Regions from separate parts of the Homo sapiens genome. Here regions 1 and 2 are each linked to region 3. The links come from fine-mapping of genetic effects on gene expression. A gene starts in region 3. Each other region holds a variant in brackets. All regions are shown on one strand. Distances are between the middles of the regions. Region 1 has its middle 21 kb from the start of CFAP97D2. Region 2 overlaps CDC16 (cell division cycle 16). Region 3 holds the start of CFAP97D2 (CFAP97 domain containing 2).

The links.
Region 1: its variant is fine-mapped to the expression of CFAP97D2 in blood mononuclear cells (TOPMed, PIP above 0.99). The same link has a PIP of 0.9 or more in whole blood.
Region 2: its variant is fine-mapped to the expression of CFAP97D2 in whole blood (INTERVAL, PIP 0.94).

What each region holds. Positions count from the first base shown.
Region 1 is chr13:114,154,404-114,162,532 of GRCh38, reverse strand. No RefSeq gene overlaps it. Among named protein-coding and RNA genes, the nearest start is that of CFAP97D2, 21 kb to the left of the region's middle. RefSeq lists an enhancer at 1-781. The variant C/G (reference allele first, on the strand shown) is at 4,231.
Region 2 is chr13:114,238,736-114,243,735 of GRCh38, reverse strand. It overlaps CDC16 (cell division cycle 16), which reads right to left. Exons shown (of 18, transcript NM_001078645.3): 4 at 4,708-4,746; 5 at 4,246-4,386; 6 at 1,456-1,615; 7 at 388-479. Among named protein-coding and RNA genes, the nearest start is that of MIR548AR, 3.3 kb to the left of the region's middle. The variant G/A (reference allele first, on the strand shown) is at 2,413.
Region 3 is chr13:114,174,671-114,182,265 of GRCh38, reverse strand. It overlaps CFAP97D2 (CFAP97 domain containing 2), which reads right to left and starts at 3,009. Exons shown (of 4, transcript NM_001395229.1): 1 at 2,846-3,009. The coding sequence starts at 2,935.

The DNA of each region.
Region 1 (8,129 bases), 20 kb after region 3:
TTTAAAGTAGAAACGGTCATTGTCAAAATGGCCCTCAGGCACAATATTTACACAGCAGAGACCCAGTCGCAGCCGCCTCACACCGAGGTCAAGGGGCAGAGACAGCAGGAACCGTGAGCTCTGGTTCCTGAGCCAGTGTCTCCTCCCTCTACCGAAGCCCTCGTGTTTGCACTCTCTTGACGAAACACCGAGCTATTTAAGTGGGAATAATATAGTTCCTTCTGTAGACAGCACAGCTGATGCCGTGGTCAAGGACAAAAATGTTAAAAGGTTTGGCCTTTAGTCGAGGACGGGCAGTTGTTGCTTTCCTGGAGGTAGCTGGACGCAGGCGGGTTTTCCTCCCGTGAGGAGCACAGCAGCCTGGGCGGGTGAGGAGGAGCCAGGCTGGGCAGGGCGGCTGTGGGTTCTCGACTTCCTCCTCCTATTCCGGGTGCCAGGAGCTGTTTACTGCCCTGTGAGAGCTTCCTGACAGCAGCTTCACTGGCCCCCTTCCAATCGAGTTCCTGCCCTCTCATCTTTGTGGAGACCACGCTGACTATGATTTCCGAAAATTTACTTGTTCTCTGCCAAATCCAAGGATTCCCACTCCCTCCCACCCATACCCTCGCTTTGCTTCTTCCCGGCTCTGCACACTCCCCAACTTGCTTCTGCACCAGGGGCCCCTCTGGGGAAAAGCAGATGTCCCTTGAGCTAAAGAAGTTGCAGTTCACCCAGGCTGGGCTGTCCTGGAGGTTGTGGGCACGTGAGCGTGGGAGGGGTCGTGTGTTCCTCCACGCTCACCCAGAGCAGCCCCCTCTCGGCTTCGTGTAATATGCTGGTGTCATACATACTTAGGTCTGTTGGAAGAAAATGTCCCAGGACTCACATAAATGATAAAAACCGTCGTTCCAGGCAGCCCATGGCTGGCATCTTGAGTGCCAATAACGTGCTCCCTGAAGCTTTCCCTGGTGGACACGAAGCAGCACTTCGCTCGTGATGGCTGATTGAAAACATGCCGGTGAACTGGACGACGGTGAGCACGACCCCCGCCCCCCGCCGCTGTGGCCGCCGCGGGGAAGCCTGCGCGTGAGTGGGACACACTTTGCCCTTCGTATTCTGAGGACAGAGGTTTGGCGTGTTAGCGAGGCCGCCAGAGTTTCACTCACACCGCGAGGCGTTCTCTAGTTAGAGGCGAGAGGGCACGACCGGAAGCGGAAGCCGCGTGACTGGGGGGGCGGCGCCGTGCCCGCCTTGGGAAGCTCGCTTCCGGTGAGCAGAGGGATGGAAGAACGCGTGCGTTTAACGTGGCTTCTGCTGGCTCCGCATGAAACGGGTTTCCGAACAAACCATACTGGGTCCCTGCCACATGTGCGTTGACCTCATTGGAGGCGAACCTTTGCTCAGGAAACTGATTCACCCAGTGGGTGACAATCAGGAGGGGCACGGAGGGCCAACGTGAGCGTTCTCACAAGCTGGGGACGAATGACGAGGCAGTGGAACAATTGCGGGATGAGGGGGGGTCACGGTGAGTCCTGCTTTGAAAATGAGTCAGGAGTAGATACAACATTTGTAAAGATGACCTGCTACCAAAAGGCCTTTGGTAAAATTCAACATCCTTTCATGTTAAAAACTCTCAATAAGCTAGGTATTGATGGAACATACCTCAAAAGAATAAAAGCCATTTATGACAAACCCACAGCCAATAACATACTGAATGGGCAAAAGCTGGAATCGTTCCCTTGAAAACTGGCACAAGACAAGGATGCCCTCTCGCACCACTCCTATTCAACACAGTATTGGAAGTTCTGCCCAGGGCAATCAGGCAAGAGAAAGAAATAAAGGTTATTCAAATAGGAAGAGAGCAAGTCAGACTGTCTCTGCAGATGATATGATCCTATATCTAGAAAACCCCATCATCTCAGCCCCAAATCTCCTTAAGCTGATAAGCAACTTCATCAAAGTCTCAGGATACAAAATCAATGTGCAGAAACTGCAAGCATTCCTATACACCAATAATAGACAAGCAGAGAGCCAAATCATGAATGAATTTCCATTCACAATTGCTGCGAAGACAATAAAATACCTAGGAATACAGCTAACAAGGGAAGTGAATGACCTCTTCAAGGAGAACTACAAACCACTGTTCAAGGAAATCAGAGAGGACACAAACAAATGGAAACACACTGCATGGTCATGAACAGGAAGAATCAATGTTGTGAAAATGGCCATATTGCCTACAGTAATTTATAGATTCAATGCAATTCCCTTTAAACTACCATTGACGTTCTTCACAGAATTAGAAAAAACTACTTTAAAATTCATATGGGACCAAAAAAGAGCCGATATAGCCAAGACAATCCTAAGGAAAAAGAACGAAGCTGGATGCTTCAGTTACCTGACCTCAGACAAGGCTGCAGTAACCAAAACAGCATGGCACTGGCACAAAAACAGACACATAGACCAATGGAACAGAATAAAGAACTCAGAACTAAGACCACACATCTTCAGCCATCTGATCTTTGACAAACTTGACTAAAACATGCAATGGGGAAAGGATTTCCTGTCTAATAAATGGTGCCAGGAAAACTGGCTAGCCACATCCAGAAAATTGAAACTGGACCCCTTTCTTACACCTTATATTAAAATCAATTCAAGATGGATTAAAGACTTAAATGTAAAACTCCAAACTATAAAAACCCTAGAAGAAAATCTCAGCAATACCATTCAGGACACAGTCACGGGCAAATATTTCATGATGAAATCACCAAAAGCAATTGTAACAAAAGCAAAAATTGACAAATGGGACCTAATTAAACTAAAGAGCTTCTGCACAGCAAAAGAAACTGTCATCAGAGTGAACAGGCAACCTACAGAATGGGAGAAAATTTTTGCAAACTCTCCATCTGACAGAGGTCTAATATCCAGAATCTACAAGGAACTTAAACAAATTTATAAGAAAAAAACCCAACAACCTTGTTGTTAAAAAGTTGGCAAAGGACATGAACAGACACTTCTCAAAAGAAGACATACATGTGGCCAACAAGCATAGGAGAAACAGCTCAACATCGCTGATCATTAGAGAAATGCAAATCAAAACCACAATGAGAAACCATCTCACGCCAGCCAGAATGGAGATTATTAAAAACTCAAGAAACAACGGATGCTGGTGAGGCTGTAGAGAAATAGAAATGCTTTTACACTGTTGGTGGGAGTGTAAATTAGTTCAACCATTGTGGAAGACAGTGTGGTGATTCCTCAAAGATCTGGAACCAGAAATACCATTTGGCTCAGCAATCTCATTACTGGGTGTATACCCAAAGGATTATAAATCATTCTATTATAAAGATACACGTATGCGTATGTTCATTGTAGCATTATTCACAATAGCAAAGACATGGAATCAACCCAAATGCCCATCAATGATAGACTGGACAAAGAAAACGTGGCACATATACCCCATGGAATACTACGCAGCCATAAAAAGGAATGCGATCATGTCTTTGCAGGGACATGGATGGAGCTGGAAGCCGTTATCCTCTGCAAACTAACACAGGAACAGAAAACCAAACACTGCGTGTTCTCACTTATAAGTGAGAGCTGAACAATGAGAACACATGGACACAGGGAGGGGAACAACACACACCGGGGCCTGTCGTGGGGTTGGGGGGCGGGAGAGCATCAGGAAAAATAAGATAATGTATGCTGGACTTAATATCTAGGTGAAGGGTTGATCTGTGCAGCAAATCACCATGGCACACGTTTACCTATGCAACAAGGCTGCACGTCCTGCACATGTATCCCAGAACTTAAAATAAAATAAAATGAAATTAAAGAAAAAAAAAGATGATCTGCTACATAATGCCTTTCACAAGAATGCGACCAGGGATGAATTTACCCCCTGTGCTCAGCGTGACTGAAGTTCTTAGGAGAGCAATAGTCTAATGTTCACCTCCACATTTTACAGACGTTGAGAACACCACGCACGGGGTCTTTGGAAGTGCTGGAATGCCCCCAGATGTCTAAGCACTCTGTCCTGTCCTGAACTCCCGCTAAGTGGAGGGCAGTTGCTGCTGGGCACCCTGAATGCAGGGCCTCCCTCCTCTTCAGGCCCAGTTGGATTGAAACAAAGTCCAAGGAGAAACGTGTAGCCCCAAAGAGAACAGGAATAGAGGTGCTGGCAGATGAGAATGGCCAATGATTTCCAAAGGTGGAAGGGGATGCAAGGGTGTGGGCGGTGGGGCAGGGTGAAGG[C/G]GCCCAGCCAGAGATGCTCAGAGATCAATGGTGGAGGCCAGGGTCATCTTGCTGAGGGATCCCAGAGTGGCACTGAGCTGGGAGGTCAAAGGGAGATAGATGTGGGGCTGAAAACGGGGTGGGGGCTGGTAATTCCAGTTGCCTGTGAACAAGTGCCTGGCAGTAGTCACCTCTGCAACCCGTGCCTGCGTCTGTATCCCGCCAAGAAGCCAGCAGGTTCCCAGGCAGCGTCAGAAGATTCTTATTCACGGCCCTGGAGTCAGCATCCTGGGTGTGGCCACAGCTTGCAGCCTGGGTCTAGGGCCCCAGGGTAAAATCTTTTTTTTTTTTAATTATACTTTAAGTTTTAGGGTACATGTGCACAACGTGCAGGTTTGTTACATATGTATACATGTGCCATGTTGGTGTGCTGCACCCATTAACTCGTCATTTACATTAGGTATATCTCCTAATGCTATCCCTCCCCCCAACCCCACAACAGGCCCCGTGTGTGATGTTCCCCTTCCTGTGTCCATGTGTTCTCATTGTTCAATTCCCACCTATGAGTGAGAACATGCAGTGTTTGGTTTTTTGTCCTTGCGATAGTTTGCTGAGAATGATGGTTTCCAGCTTCATCCATGTCCCTACAAAGGACATGCACTCATCATTTTTTCATGGCTGCACAGTATTCCATGGTGTATATGTGCCTTATTCTAGTGTGGATTGCAGTGTTTCGGGGGAAGGGAGAGATGCTAGCCTGCTGCCTGCTCCTCACCCATCTGTCCTAAATAAAGCACAGCCACGCCCCGTCTGTGGATTCCCTCCCAGCTCACCTTTCCACCCCCAGCTACCTTTCCACCCCTAGCTCACCTTTCCACCTGGAGGACCCCACGGAAAACCCACAGTATCCCATCTAAATGAGCCACTGGTTCTTAGACACAGGTGAGCAGGCTTCTCCAGACTTTCCATAGAAACCAGCGACAGAGGGGGAGGATCCACAAAGGTGACAGCTGGCTGGGCGTGGTGGCTCATGCCTGTAATCCCAGCACTTTGGGAGGCCGAGGTGGGTGGATTGAGAGTTCGGGAGTTCACGACCAGCCTGGCCAACATGGAGAAACCCCGTCTCTACTAAAAATACAAAATTAGCCGGGCATGGTGGTGCATGCCTGTAATCCCAGCTACTCGGGAGGCTGAGGCAGGAGAATCGCTTGAACCCGGGAGGCGGAGGTTGCGGTGAGCTGAGACCGCACCATTGCACTCCAGCCTGGGCACTCCAGCCTGGGCAACAAGAGTGAAACTCCGTCTCAAAAAAAAAAAAAAAAAGGTGACAGCTGACCTCAGAGAAAACAGCTAAGTGGGAAAACAAAAAATGAAGTTAAAGATCTAATTACTGTCCTCAGAATATTCAAGAAAATACGCATATAGGTAACATAAGAACAGAATACTAGTTAAGAACAGGCAGAGAGCAGGAAAGATGTTTAAAATATGATTTCTGAACTGAAAATCCCACGAAAGAGATGGACTTCAGGGTCCAGTGAGGTTTCCAGAATATGCCTCAAAAAGACAGATGGAGAATTCTCAAGGAGAGATTAAAGTCCTGGACCATGCGCTGAGGAAATGCCAGGCGAATAGGCTTCAGAGAAGAGAAGGGAGGCAGGACGCTTCCTCCACAGAGGAAACTTTCCGGAGCAGAAGGACAGGGCAGAGGCTGGTGGGGAGGTGGGGGCAAGCAAGGAGACCCAGGACAGGGGACCGAAAGGACACTTCCTCTCCTCTTCTGGGGAGAAAAACAATCAAAAGGAGAAAGAGAAACAGAAACACATTCCAGTTACCTTGACACCAGGACTGGGAAGGGCGAGGGTGAAGGTCGGGGAGCCCAGAGGAGGTGCACACCCCACGCCCAGCACCCACCCCATCCACGCCCAGCACCCACCCTTCCCCACCCCTCCCCACGCCCCAGCACCCACCCTTCCCCACCCCTCCCCCCCCACGCCCAGCACCCACCCTTCCCCACCCCTCCACCCCCACGCCCAGCACCCACCCCATCCACGCCCAGCACCCACCCTTCCCCACCCCTCCCCCCCCACGCCCAGCACCCACCCTTCCCCACCCCTCCACCCCCACACCCAGCACCCACCCCTCTACCCTCACATCCGGCATCCACCTCACCCACCCCACCCACCCCTCCACCCCCAGGCCCGGCACCCACCCTCACATCTGGCATCCACCCCACCCACCCCTCCAAACCCAGGCCCAGCACCCACCCCACCCATCCCTCCACCCCCACGCCCAGCACCCACCCTTCCCCACCCCTCCACCCCCACGCCTGGCACCCACCCTTCCCCACCCCTCCACCCCCACACCCAGCACCCACCCCACCCATCCTCCACCCCATGCCCAGCACCCAACCCACCCTCCCTCCACCACCAGGCCCCGCACCCACCACACCCACCCTCCACCCCCAGGCTTGGCACCCACCCCCCCTCCCCCACGCCCAGCACCTCCCCTTCCCTCACCCCTCCCTCCCAACCCTCTGCACCCCACCCCTCCCCACCCCTCCACCTCCACGCCCAGCACCCACTCCTCCCCACTTCTCCACCCTCATGCCCGGCCCCCACCCCTCCCCACCCTCCACCCCCACACTCAGCACCCACCCCTCCCCACCCCTTCATCCTCATGCCTGGCCCCCACCCCTCCCCACTGTCCACCCGTATGCCCAGCACCCACCCTCCCCACCCCTCCACCCTCACACCGTGCATCCCACACCTTCCCCCTCCAGGTAACACCCTACACCCCTACACCCCACCACTGGCCCTAATCTTCCATCCCCATGCCCCACACCTCCACTTTCCCCTTAGCCCCTCACCCTCATGCCCTGCACCCCATACCCCACTGCTCCCACAGCCTTCCACCCCATGCCCCACACCTCTACCCTGCCCAAAGCCCCCACCCTCACCCTCACACCCCACCCCTCCTCATAGCCCCCACCCTTACATCAAACTCCCCCTACATTCCACCCTTCCCTAACCCCCCACCCCGTGCCCCACACCTCCACACCCCACTCCTCCCCTGAGTCCCCCACTTCCACACCCCACAGTCGCACACACTACCGGTCTCCCAGCCTTCCACCCTCACACCTTGCACCTGCGCACCCTCCCCCTCCCCCAGGCCCCACCATCATGCCCCCACACCTACACCCTCTAACTCGACCTTCTAACTCCCTGAGCTCCCACACTCTGCATCCCACACCCCACACCCCACCCACCCCGTTAGCCCCCACTGTCCCATGTCTCATGACCCACACCCCACACCCTCACAGCCCCCTCCACCCCCAACGCCCCACTACAGCCCCCCACTCACCATAACTCCACACCCCACCCCTGCATCCCCCATCCCCACCCCTGCATCCCCCATCCCCCACCACTTTGCCCCATGTTCCCAACCTCCCCAATCTCCCCCATGCCCCACACCTTAACCCCCTACCCTTATACTCTACCTGCACATCCAGCACCCAACCCCAACTGCAATCCCCTACACACCTTCCACGGCCACTCCGCACCCCCACACCTCACGGGCCTCCACACTCCTCAGAGCAACTGGAGCCTTGGGCCTCAGTGGTGGAAAGAGGAGGGTGAGCCTCAGCAGCTGCAGGAAGTAGCAGCCTCCTGGGACAGCTCATCTAAGGAGGACAGGCCCCCTTAACCAGAGAAGCCCCACAGGGTCTAGACACAGACAGAGTAAGGCTTTTTTTTTTTGAGACAGAGTCTTGCTCTGTCACCCAGGCTGGAATGCAATGGCGCGATCTCGGCTCGGCTCACTGCAACTTTCACCTCCCGGGTTCAAGCGATTCTCCTGCCTCAGCCTCTTGAGAGTAAGGCACTTTTTAACAAGGGAAAGGGGCTGAGCGTGGGGCGGCGCTT
Region 2 (5,000 bases), 63 kb before region 3:
AAAACTTATAACTTTAGGTTTTATAAGTACTCCTCTCAGTAAGTTTAATTCCCTTCTCAATTTTAGAACAGAATTCCACAGCGGGACGTATTTCTCAAAGTAAACATTCAGGAAGCATAACAAAAAAATCTTCATTTCCATGCAACACCATTCCATTTACATTTACTTGGTAATTCAATCTTTTAGTATAAGGAGTCTTTCAGAGGAAAAAGGTATTTTTGAAAGCTTTTTTTTTTTGGAATCTTATGTATCTTAAACGCTCTATTCTTAAAAATGTGCTAAATTTAAAAAGTTTTAATTTTGAAAACTTAATATAAGACTAGATGCCAAATTTTATGGAATAAGATATTTACATAAAGCAAGTGCTAACTCTTTGGTTTTACTTACTTTTTTCAATTTGTTCTCAAATAGAAAACGCAGCAATTCCTGTTCTTCATTACACAGCTTGCTAAGGGGTAGTGATTCAAGAAGTTCTTTTTCTTAAAAATGGTGAGAAAAAAAAGAATATCCTCATAATATTTATAGAGGGGAAAAAGCCAACAACTAAAAATATGATTCTACAGTTCTTGGTCTAAGTAAATCAAACTCAAAAGAGAACATAAGATCAAAATGTGCAACAGAAGCTGACACAGTGGCTCCAGGCCTGAAGACGGGAATCATCTGGTGGGTGGAGGCTACTCTTTCAGGGCTGAGGCAGGTCCCCAGGTGGCTCTTGTCACCTAAGAACCACCAGCCTCCGCACTCCTGACTGCGTGGATCTTGCTCTGCTGGGAACAGGGGAGCCTGTGTACTGCAGGTGCTAAGCAGGACCTCTGGCCACTAACCACTAGATACCAGCAGCAACCTCTCAACCTCCCTCCCTGCCCCTAAGCTGTGACAAACAACATCTCCAGACATTGCCAACTGTTCCCGGGGCAGGGGGCGGCAAAATCACTCTGGTTGGTTGAGAACCACTGCACTAGGCTAAAATATGTTAGAATCCCATTAATCCAACCACTCTATTTTCTGTTTCCCTTGTTGACGCACCTCACACCACTGCCAACATACTTGGACTGATTCTCAGTGCCTGTGGTACATTAGGATCACCTGGGAGCTTTAAAGCATCTGCTCTGGAGTTGGGAACTGGACATGGATGTTTCTCTGTCTTCCCAAGGATGTAAAGAGCAACACGGTTGAGAATCACTGCATGAGATACTGAAATCCTGGTTTATACTATCTCAATCACTTCTCAAAAAGATGGCCTCTTCCTATCACAATCCCTAGATTCGGACAGCACAAGGCACCGTACAATACTGCATTCTGCAACGTGCTTTACATTTGAAGACATTAAGAAAGTGAGTAGGTCTATTTAAACCTGTATGTGGCCTGTTGTTGACTTAGAAGATTTCAGAGGCAAAAAATCCAAACAATATTAATTTTGCTAAACATAAAACAAAAAAGCCTGAGTTTCCAAACCTTCTTGTGCTGTCAGCATGTGATGTGATGTTAAAAGATCGAACGCTTCAAAACAGTAGACATCAAGCTTCAAAGCTTCTTTGTAGCTGTAGGTAGCCAGGGTTCGGTTATCTAGAGCATCATAGATTTTCCCGCGTAGAAGACAGATAGAACTCTTTATCTGTTGGAAAAATGATGAGTCACATATTAAGTCAGTACTTTTAAACTTAACTTTTTTTTTTTCTCCTTAGAGGCAGAGTCTCACTCTGTCTCCCAGGCTGGAGTTCAGTGGTGCGATCATAGCTCACTGCAGCCTTGAACTCCTATGATCTCAAATGACCCTCCTGCCTCAGCCTCCTGAGTAGCTAGGATTACAGGTGCACAATACCACAAACAGTTAATTTTTTAAATTTTTTGTACAGACAATCTTGCTATGTTGCCTAGGCTGCTCTCAAACTCCTGGCCTCAAGTGATCCTCCCACTTTGGCCTCCCGAAGTGCTGAGATTACAGGCATGAGCAACCATGCCTGGCCCTTAAACTTAACTTTTGATAGAGAATTGTGTATTTGAATGCTGAGAAGTTTTTATTGCATTTAAAAGGATTTAGTCAATCACAACTGTCAAGGCATAAATAAAAACACACAAAAAATGCACAGCAAAGCTTCTTCAATTCACCTTCCCTGGGCTTCAACTGCTCTGTTCCAACACATCTTTATAACAAAAGTACATGTCACGGCTACTAGGTTCATTACCTGTTTTGTCCAAAACAGTGCAATGATTTAGAGATGGCAGAGTGTGTGTGCATGTGTATAAAACTCCAAGATTGACAGTGTGATAGGCAGACACCCCTCAAAAGGATCTTAATGAGCAGAAACTGGCAGCAATGCAGCAGAGTGGTCACAGCAGTCAGCACAATGGCCTGCTGAGGCAGCACAGACCTGAGTTCAAACCCCAGCTCTGCCAATTACTTGTAACCTC[G/A]GACAAGTGATTGAACCTCTCTTGGCCTCCATTTCCTATCCTCATCTGTAAAAAGATAAAAACACTATCTAACTTATAGAACTCTTTACTATCTAACTTATAGAAGTCTGTGAGGGCTAGAGATGCTACCATCTCTGTGGTGCTAGCACATAGTAAGGCGTTCAACAGCCATCTCACGACTACCATAAACACGAAGATGTGGAAATCTGATGCACATTCTAGACTCTGGACCTCGAACACATAACTGAATTTAAAGATGATCCAGCAACAGGCAGCTAGTATCATTAAGGATATGAAGAAGATTCATAAAGTAAAATTTTAGAAAAAATAATGAATTATGAGAGTCTTCGAACTAAGCAATATCCTAGGAGTTGTTTTTTAAAAATGTAATTTCACAAAATAAATAATAATGCGTTGCAAATAAATCACACATTTCATAGCAAATAAGTTAATGGATAAGAGGTCCCAAAATAATGACTGTACCACACACTTTCATAAATGCATTTCTTAACAGAAGAATCTGCTTCCCAACACATACATTAATGAGTGGCCAGAAAAAAAAACAAAAACAAAAACCTAGAATGTGTAATATTCTTTTATGCTTAAAAATAACTATCTAAGGTGAAAAGTCAAGTAATAAACTTCTACCAAAAATATAAATAAATGGGCCAGGTGCAGTGGCTCATGACTGTAATCCCAACACTTTGGGAAACTAAGGCAGGAGGATCACTTGAGCCCAGGAGTTTGAGACCATCCTGGGCAACACAGTGAGACCCTGTCTCTACAAAACATTTTTTAAAAAATTTAGCCAACTGTGCCGGGCACAGTGGCTCACACCTGTAATCCCAGCACTTTGGGAGGCCGAGGTGGGCAAACCACGAGGTCAGGAGATCGAGACCATCCTGGCTAACATGGTGAAACCCCGTCTCTACTAAAATAGCAAAAAATTAGCCGGGCATGGTGGCGGGCGCCTGTAGTCCCAGCTACTCGGGAGGCTGAGGTGGGAGAATCACTTGAGCTTGGGAGGTTGAGGCTGCAGTGAGCTGTGATTGTGCCACTGCACTCCAGCCTGGACAACAAAGCAAAGACCCTGTCTTAATTTAAAAAAAAAAGATGTGGGAAGAAAGAGAAATTGGTAGGTCAGGTAAGGCTTACAGGGATTCTTTCTGAATAATAAAAATATTCTAAAATTGACCATGGTGAGGTTTGCAAAGCTCTGTGAATACACTAAAAGGAATCAAACCATACAGTTTAAATGGGGGAACTGCATGGCATATAAATTATACCTCAATAAGTTTTTATTTTTTTTTTTAAATCCAGATTAGTGATCTGTAAATGTCACTTAATAAGTTACTATATGATGTCTGCCAGCAAGGAATGTGCAATTTCATGGAGATATGAAGTATACAAACTGAAATATACACAATTACATAGCAATGTACTTTGAAGCAAACAGAACACAAAACCATTTCCTGGAAAGAAACAATGTACGCTAATCAAAGTTTCTTGGTGTAGGTCCAAAACACTGCTGAAACACAGAAAGGAGAAGAAAAATTATTCCACTTTTAGGGAGTAGCTTAAGGCATCAAATATGAGAAGGAAGTTTCAAGCCAGCCTATTTTGGATGCAGGCATCTGCGGATACAATTACAGCTTGCAACTAAGGGCTCAGAAATGTCTCAGAATCTTTTTTGGTTTTGGTGGGCAAATTAAATAAATTGGCAACCACAATTGTTTTAATATAGTAATAAGTAAAAGAAGATAATGTGTTTCTGCCACGTAATGAGGGCAATTCTCGCCGCCGTTACTGAGCTGTGCTCACAGTACTACTTACTGAAGACTGTGACATTTCCCAGTCGCTGGAAGGATCTTTGAAGCCACTTTCGTCCTTCAAGTATTTTTCAAATAATCTTTTATTGATGGGCTCTTCCATGTCAAGAACATCAAGGGCCTGCTGGTGCTCTTTTGCAGCATACTACGTGGAAAACAGAAGTGCCGCTCATCACTCACGACTTCTAACACGAAACACATGATCCGAATTTTTAAAGGATAACATATACTATGCCCATTATTTAAATGTGAAATGTCTAAAGTAGAATTTTCTTCATGCATGTCAGCATGTGGTAAACGAAGAATCAGTATTTTATAGCAAACATGACTAAGGAAAGGAACACTTCCTCATGAAATACTTTACTAACCTGCTAAGCTCCATCACTAAAATTCTCACACATATTTAAGAGATGCATAACACTCATTTTATTCAACCAAATAAAAATGAAATTATGAGCATACTTACATGGCACCTAGCTGCAAGGTAACGACATGCTTCATACAACTAGGAAAGAAATTAATTTGTTTAAGTAGTGGTCAAAATAATATGTATCTTCACTTTCAAAGAAAGCCATAAGCATAAAATAGAACTAATTTCATAATTTCTCCTTTTACTCTTGCAGTTAAAAAAAAAATCCAGTCCTGTTAAACCATATTTATTATGAACCTACTGTTTACTAGGCACCAAGGATTCAAAAGCAGTAAGGCCCTGCCCCAGGAGGTTACAGTAGGGGAGATGTGAACTAAGCACAACAGGTA
Region 3 (7,595 bases):
TTGGGCGGAGAGAAACATAAATCTGGCCTACGTGCACATCCAGGCATAGTACCTTCCCTTGAACTTAATTACGACATAGACTCTTTTGCTCACGTTTTTTGCTGACCTTCTCCTTATTATCACCCTGCTCTCCTACTACTTTCCTTTTTGCTGAAATAATGAAAATAATAATCAATAAAAACTGAGGGAACTCAGAGACCGGTGCTGGTGCAGGTCCTTGGTATGCTGAGCGCCGGTCCCCTGGGCCCACTGTTATTTCTCTATACTTTGTCTCTGTGTCTTATTTCTTTTCTCAGTCTCTCGTCCCACCCGACTAGAAATACCCACAGGTGTGGAGGGGCAGGCCACCCCTTCAGGCATGGCCAGCCTGGCTGAGGGGTCAGGTGCGTTGGGGAGCGCTGGGGGCAGGGGCCACTCAGGCTCTGAGGGGGAAGGCTGGGCTGAGGATGAGGCCCCTATTCTAGGAGGGCAGTCATCAGGGGACTGGGATGCACTGTTCTCCCACAGGTCTTTTTTCTCCTCTTATTTTATCTCCTCTTATTCTACCAAGGTCCTTTACAGTTTCAGAGATTCTCAGCCAAGCAATAAAAAACTAAGTTATTCAAAGAGCTGATTCTCTCCACTCTTAATTTGGGAGAAACATTGTTTGCATTCAAGTTTTAGTGCCAGTTGGAGAACTGTGGAGTGTTAGAGGGGTCCTGCTCATGTAGCTGCTTCCAGCCCCGGCTGCTCCTCACCCTTCTGCTGTAGCTTGCCCTTCTCCTCATTCAGTGGGGCCTGTAGCGTCAGGGCCCATCTTGCTCTTCTCCCATTTCTTTGTCCTAAATGAGCCCTACCCCCGTGGGACGGCTCTGCCAGCTGCCTTAACCTCCTTTGCCAGGTTTCATGTCCTACCCTCACGCCCCTCAGCATACCCCTGCCAGGACACCCAGGCATCATCACCACCTGTGTCTGCCCCTGCTGGGAAGCTGTGCTTTCAGTTGCCCTGTTCTTCACCACAACCTCCTTTTCATCACTTGGTCAGCTGTGCCCAACAGCAGTTCCTTACGATATGTGACTTCCAGTTTCTCTCTTTCTGGACTGGTTCTCTGTCTTCACTTCATCCCCTCCAGGTCAGACACCCAGTCCCTCTTTTCAACACTTTCGTGCCAGAATCATAGGTTCCCGGCCCATGCCCCTTGCTGCTACTCGGGGGCCACACTGGGGTGTTCCAATGACTCCATCCTTGGACCCAGTACCTGTAGGTTTCCGACGTCACAGAGCTGCTAAACTAGCTTATGCCCCCTGGGGCCTCATGGCTCCAGTCAACCTACCAAAGTTCACTATTCAATCATCTCTGCACCTCCCATGACGACAATTTCAACCTTCTTTACCTTACAGTTTCTCAGGTACAGAGCCTGGTTACTCACTTAGGCTGCAGGATTACTGACCAGCTACCTCATGCAGGAGGTATTCTAGTCCCCGGGATACAAAAGCAAACAAGAAAACACCCATGGGGTTTCTATCCTGTAGTATTACTGTAATGCTAACTGATTCATATGTGCTATTGCCTTACCCACTGCTTTCCATCTTTCCCTACTGACAACGGTTGACCAAGTGCTCACTCCACACTCTACGTGCAGAGAACATCGTGGTGGGCAGGACGTGGTCAGCACTGAGTGGGGAAAACAACACAAGTAATGAACATGCCCATCAATCACGTGGCAACAGGAGGTAGCAGGCCCAGGAACCAGAGAGCGGCAGAGGGGAGAGAGAAGACTCCAGGGAGATGATATTGGAACCGGAGTGCCAGGAAGTGAGGTTGAGCTGGGGAAGGAGCCGGGAAGAGTTCCCAGTGGGGACCTCAAAGGAGACAGCAGGTGCAGAGGCCTGACGTGGGGTGGGGGCTGGGTGCTATGGCGCCTTGCAATGAGTGTGACCTGCAGCCCAGGCCACACAATGTCACTTGCAACCCTAGGAGGAAGAGAAATGCTTGACCTGCAGTTCACTCCTTGGGGTAGTCACTTAAGATCATTACAGGGCAGTGTCTCCATTCCCAGAAACAGAAACCCAAACTTCTCCTTCTTAAGAGTATTTCCAGCCTGATCAACACACATGTGGAGACATGATACATGGAACATCGTTCTCTGACGCCTCCACTGAGGTGTGGGCAGAAGACTGTGGGAGGCCACCTCAGATCTGCATGGCGATGCCCTCAAACAATTGTCCACATTTGCATCCAATAAATGGAAATAATAACATATCTTCTAATGGGGACAAGGGTTGGCTTTTAGTCCCCCTTGGAGTCCACTGTTTTGATAGAGAAAAGGATGCCGGGCCGGGCACGGTGGCTCATGCCTGTAATCCCAGCACTTTGGGAGGCTGAGGCAGGTGGATCACCTGAAATCAGGAGTTCAAGACTAGCCTGACCAACATGGCAACACCCCTATGGCAACATCCCTCTCAAAAACAAACAAAAACAAAAACAAAAACAAAAAACAAAAAGAAAGAAAAAGAAAAGGATGCTTCTGGTGTTTTTGTCTTAAGATGCTTTCAAGTCACTTAGGAAAAATTAAGTACTTCTTAAATATATGCTGTGATTAGAAATAGGATGGCCCTAAAACATGGCACATGAAAGCTGTCATCTCAAAAAAAAAAAAGAAAGAAAGAAAGCCGTCAACTATTTAATGAGATTTTTATTGTATGGCAACATAGATGATGAATCTTGTTAGGAAATGTCATTTCAACCATGCTGTCTCCAAAAAGAAAATCACCTCCAGGACTCCAGGGAAAGCAGAGGCATTTCGTGGGCGCTGCTTGGTGCCCGCCCGCTGAGCTGTCAGGGCTGGATTGGGGACTTTCCTACCTTTCTCCTGTGGTCCTGATAGGCTTTCTCCCTTGCATGCCACAGGTACTCACTGGCACAGGGAAAGGTCAGCCGGGGGGCTCCGTGCATCTCAGCAACAAAATCGTCTTGCTCATTCCAGACAGAGGAGCAGCTGGGGCCTGGTGCAGACCTGGAGACGCTGTGTTTGCAGGGTCATGTGACAGTTGTCATGGCGTCCAAGGAGGGGGAAGAACGGGAGCCAGAAGACAGTCTGGGATTCTCAAACAACACGCGAAGAATAATGGTGAAGAGTGGGATCTTCTTCTCCACTGGGGTGTTTTTTTTTTTCAGGAGATCTTGGATAGTTTAGTGTTGCCATTTTGATGCCACTCCTCAGCTACAGAGGAAGGAGATAATCACACATAAGATCCGAGAAATTCTCCAACTAACCTTCCTCCTGCCCACCCTTCCTTTGCTCCTTGCTGTCTTCCTCTCCCCTACCTCTTTCTTCTGCCCTTCCTCCCAACCTCTCCCGCTCTCCAGTTCTTTCCTTTCTTAATTAGTACCTTTCTTTCTGCTTTCCTTATCTCCTTTCTCTTCTATCTTGAATAATTTATATAATTCAGACAATTCCAAAATATTTGTTTGAAGGTTAGGCAGCAGATCCTCCCTAATTTTTCTGATTGACTTGAAGACGAGTTATGCAAAGGCTTAGCTGTTTTAAGCCACCCTCTCTCCATTGCTCTAATCAGGTTGGGATGGGTTTTTCCTGAGACGAATGGAGTGAACATGGCGCTAGGACAGCTGTCGGTCGTTTCATCTTCGTTGAAGCCACGTGCGCAATGTTGGCGACGACACATCAGAGGATTTGGTTAATGAGAAAATAGCATCATCATTTTCATGTCAGAGCTGTGGTCTTCATTACACTACAGCTCTCATCACATGAGACTCCAGTGCAGAATCCATGGATGGGAACTCATTGTTCAGCTTTGCATATGTGAGGAGCAGATACAGGGCATTTCATGAGAAATTTGCTCTGAATATTAGCAGGATGTAGTGGCTGCCAGTCTGAAAGAAAGAATCAGATCTGGAAGTAATAAGATGTGAGTGAAGCCAAAATATGACTTTATTTCCTCCCCTGCCACTCTTGAGGTGGCTGAGGTGCTCTGTACTCAGCTAGCTCTGATGATCTTCAACATTTGGCAGAAGCCTTTATAGGCTGTTAAAATTGTTGATTTAATGAAAATTTTAAAGTTGCCTGGGTTTTTGAAAAGAAAAATTTATTTTAATACATAATTGTTCACAAGTATTAATTTTTAGATAACTTGCATATACTGTAGAATTTAGATGTAAGAATTCCTACCTAGAAATACAACCAGCACTTTAAGACATGAGGCTTAGTTATGATTTCTTAGCCTATACAATCTAAATGTTACATTCAGAGGAATTCTATTAGAATAATCAATTTCCTTTACTCTGATATTGTCATTGGTCAAAAATGACTAGAAAAAGCCTAATATTCAGTAGGTGCTCAACAAATACCTAATATTCAGTAGGTGCTCGACAAATACCTGACAGTCATGCTGATGGGAAGTAGTGCTGTCCATGCTATTGGCTGGTTCCTCAGCTGGGACTCGGAGTCAGACCGTGGGGCTGTCTTCCCTTGTTCCTTCATCCTGTGTGCTGAGAAGCCTGACTGTGCTTGCTGCTGCCATCGGTTGGTGGATGGAGGAGTGAGGGCTGTGCTCTATGTCTGCTCACACTCACATGGATAAAGCGTGCATTGAGGGCAAAGTGGACAAAATATGTGACGTTTGAAGTTTTTGTTTTTACAGTGTGGGGATTCACAGTGGTTTGGATGCACACACTGTTTTTGATGCTCCTGGTCAAATGAAGTGAGCTCAGGTCAGGGAAGGAGTCCCAGCTGCCACCCACGGCTGCCACCCACGGCTGCCACCCACGGCTGTCCACCCACGGCTGTCACTCACAGCTGCCTCCCACAGGGAAGGAGTCCCAGCTGCCACCCACGGCTGCCACCCACACTGTCCACCCACGGCTGTCACCCACAGCTGTCCACCCACAGCTGCCACCCTCAGGGAAGGAGTCCCAGCTGCCACCCAAGGCTGTCACTCACAGCTGCCACCCTCAGGGAAGGAGTCCTAGCTGTCCACCCACAGCTGTCACCCATGCTGTCCACCCATGGCTGTCACCCACAGCTGTCATCCACATGGAAGGAGTCCCAGCTGTCCACCCACGGCTGCCACCCATGCTGTCCACCCACAGCTGTCACCCACAGGGAAGGAGTCCTAGCTGCCACCCACGGCTGCCACCCATGCTGTCCACCCACGGCTGTCACCCACAGCTGTCACCCACAGGGAAGGAGTCCCAGCTGCCACCCACGGCTGTCACTCACAGCTGCCACCCTCAGGGAAGGAGTCCTAGCTGTCCACTCACAGCTGCCACCCATGATGTCCACCCACGGCTGTCACCCACAGCTGTCCACCCACAGCTGTCACCCATGCTGTCCACCCACGGCTGTCACCCACAGCTGTCCACCCACAGCTGTCACCCATGCTGTCCACCCATGGCTGTCACCCACAGCTGTCATCCACATGGAAGGAGTCCCAGCTGTCCACCCACGGCTGCCACCCATGCTGTCCACCCACAGCTGTCACCCACAGGGAAGGAGTCCTAGCTGCCACCCACGGCTGCCACCCACGGCTGCCACCCACGGCTGTCACTCACAGCTGTCACCCACAGGGAAGGAGTCCTAGTTGCCACCCACGGCTGCCACCCATGCTGCCCACCCACAGCTGTCCACCCACGGCTGTCACCCACAGCTGTCCACCCACGGCTGTCACCCATGCTGTCCACCCACAGCTGTCACCCACAGGGAAGGAGTCCTAGCTGCCACCCACGGCTGCCACCCATGCTGTCCACCCACGGCTGTCACCCACAGCTGTCACCCACAGGGAAGGAGTCCCAGCTGTCCACCTACGGCTGCCACCCTCGGCTGGCCTATGGTTACCTGCAACCCACTGACCACTCGACTCACGTCTGCTCTTGGACTTGACTGACGGCAGGGCCCATGGTACAGAATCTGCAAACATCAGACATGTTGCTAAAGACCCAGGAAAATCAATCACCCCCAACAACATGCTCTGGATTTCAGGGCACCACAGGGCTCCAATCAAGTTTTGCTTCTTAAGATCAGACCAGACAAGGCAGTTAAGCAGCAGCTCCTTGGCATCTGTCCTGAGGACTAATGAAACACTGACAAGGGCTTGCACACATGAAGCAACACTGCATGGAAGTGAGCTGCAGTCTGGGGTCCAGTGTTGAGAAGCAGTGCGGACTTCCACCGTGCACCTCTGTTCCGGGATCCAAGCCATGGCACCACACTGCATTTTGTGATTTCTATATTAAGTGGAGAATTATTTTTTATACTGGGCTAGGTTTGGATGTTTGGTATTATATAGTTTCTACTTATATTCTACAGAAAGTAAATACCAACGCCTATTTTTGACTTTGATTATCCAGATTATATTTGGGTGTTCAGCTGCTGCCTTAATCAATATTTTGGCCCAATATTAAGTTTAACGTTTTGTTTCTTAGAAATGCCTTGAAATGTCACCAAGTGATATCCTGAAATGTGGAGGCCGTTACATAGAACAGCTTACTATGTTGCATGCAATATGTAAAGTATTTGCTATATGACACATATTAACTCAGTCTTTAATATTCATAATTCTTTTCCTGTGTCCTTAACTCTAAATCCAAGCTTTGATTTTTCTGTTCTGCCCTCCCACAAAAGGCCGTATCTTCAAAACCAAGCAGCAACTTCGTTCTCATTCTGCAGAAGAGTGGTTTACAAACAAATCTCCAACCACTTCAAATTCACTCAACCTTCAACCTTTGGAGGGCAAATGTGCTTGCAAACATTGATTTCCAGAAAAGGTAACTGTGTCTCCAGTACCTTCTGTGTAGTGCAAATCACTCAAGAGCTGAGCTAAAGAAGCTGGGAGTCACCACCACCAGGAACTGCTGCGTGACCTGCTTAAGTCGACCCTTCCACTGAACAAAGCCAGAATCCTGGAGGCCATCTTGCATATACTGAAGAGCCCACCCAGGAGTCAGGAATTTTGAGGCTGTGGTCAAAAAAATCTGTCAGACCCCCGAGCCAGCACTCAGAGGGCTTCTCCTGAAGGCACTCAGGATGCCAGCGGTGGGGTCTTTGTGGGGGATGGGGCAGGTGGGCAGTCTTCATAGGAGCTGAAGTCTTCACCCTCAGGAAAACGTGGATCAGAAATAACCCATCCTTCAACAACTGCCAGGTTACAGCAGAGCAGGGGACAAGACAAGGAAGAGCCCTGCGGCCCAGGTTCACACAGTTGTGAAATTAGCTTAATGTCACAGTGCCTAAAAAACCCTCAAGTCGCGAAATTATCTTAACGTGGCCCTGGACTGATGACATCTCAAGATGCTGCCAACTTTCCAGTGTCTCAGTGCACCAAACATCTTGCAAAGTGAATCAATCCTGCAGAGAAGACACGACTAGCACCACAGGAACCTTGGAGCAGATGGCTCAGACACAGATGATAAGACTCACTCTGCTTCAAGGCACAAAAGACAAAATCGGAAATAGCTGCAGAGTACAGGAAACCATAAAAGTTTTCAATACAGAAAGAATGTTTACAACATTTGCAAAATTTGACCGTATGCTGGGCCATGAAAAAGTGTCCACATGTTTCAAAGGGCTGAAATCATACAGATAATGTTCACAGTGGCA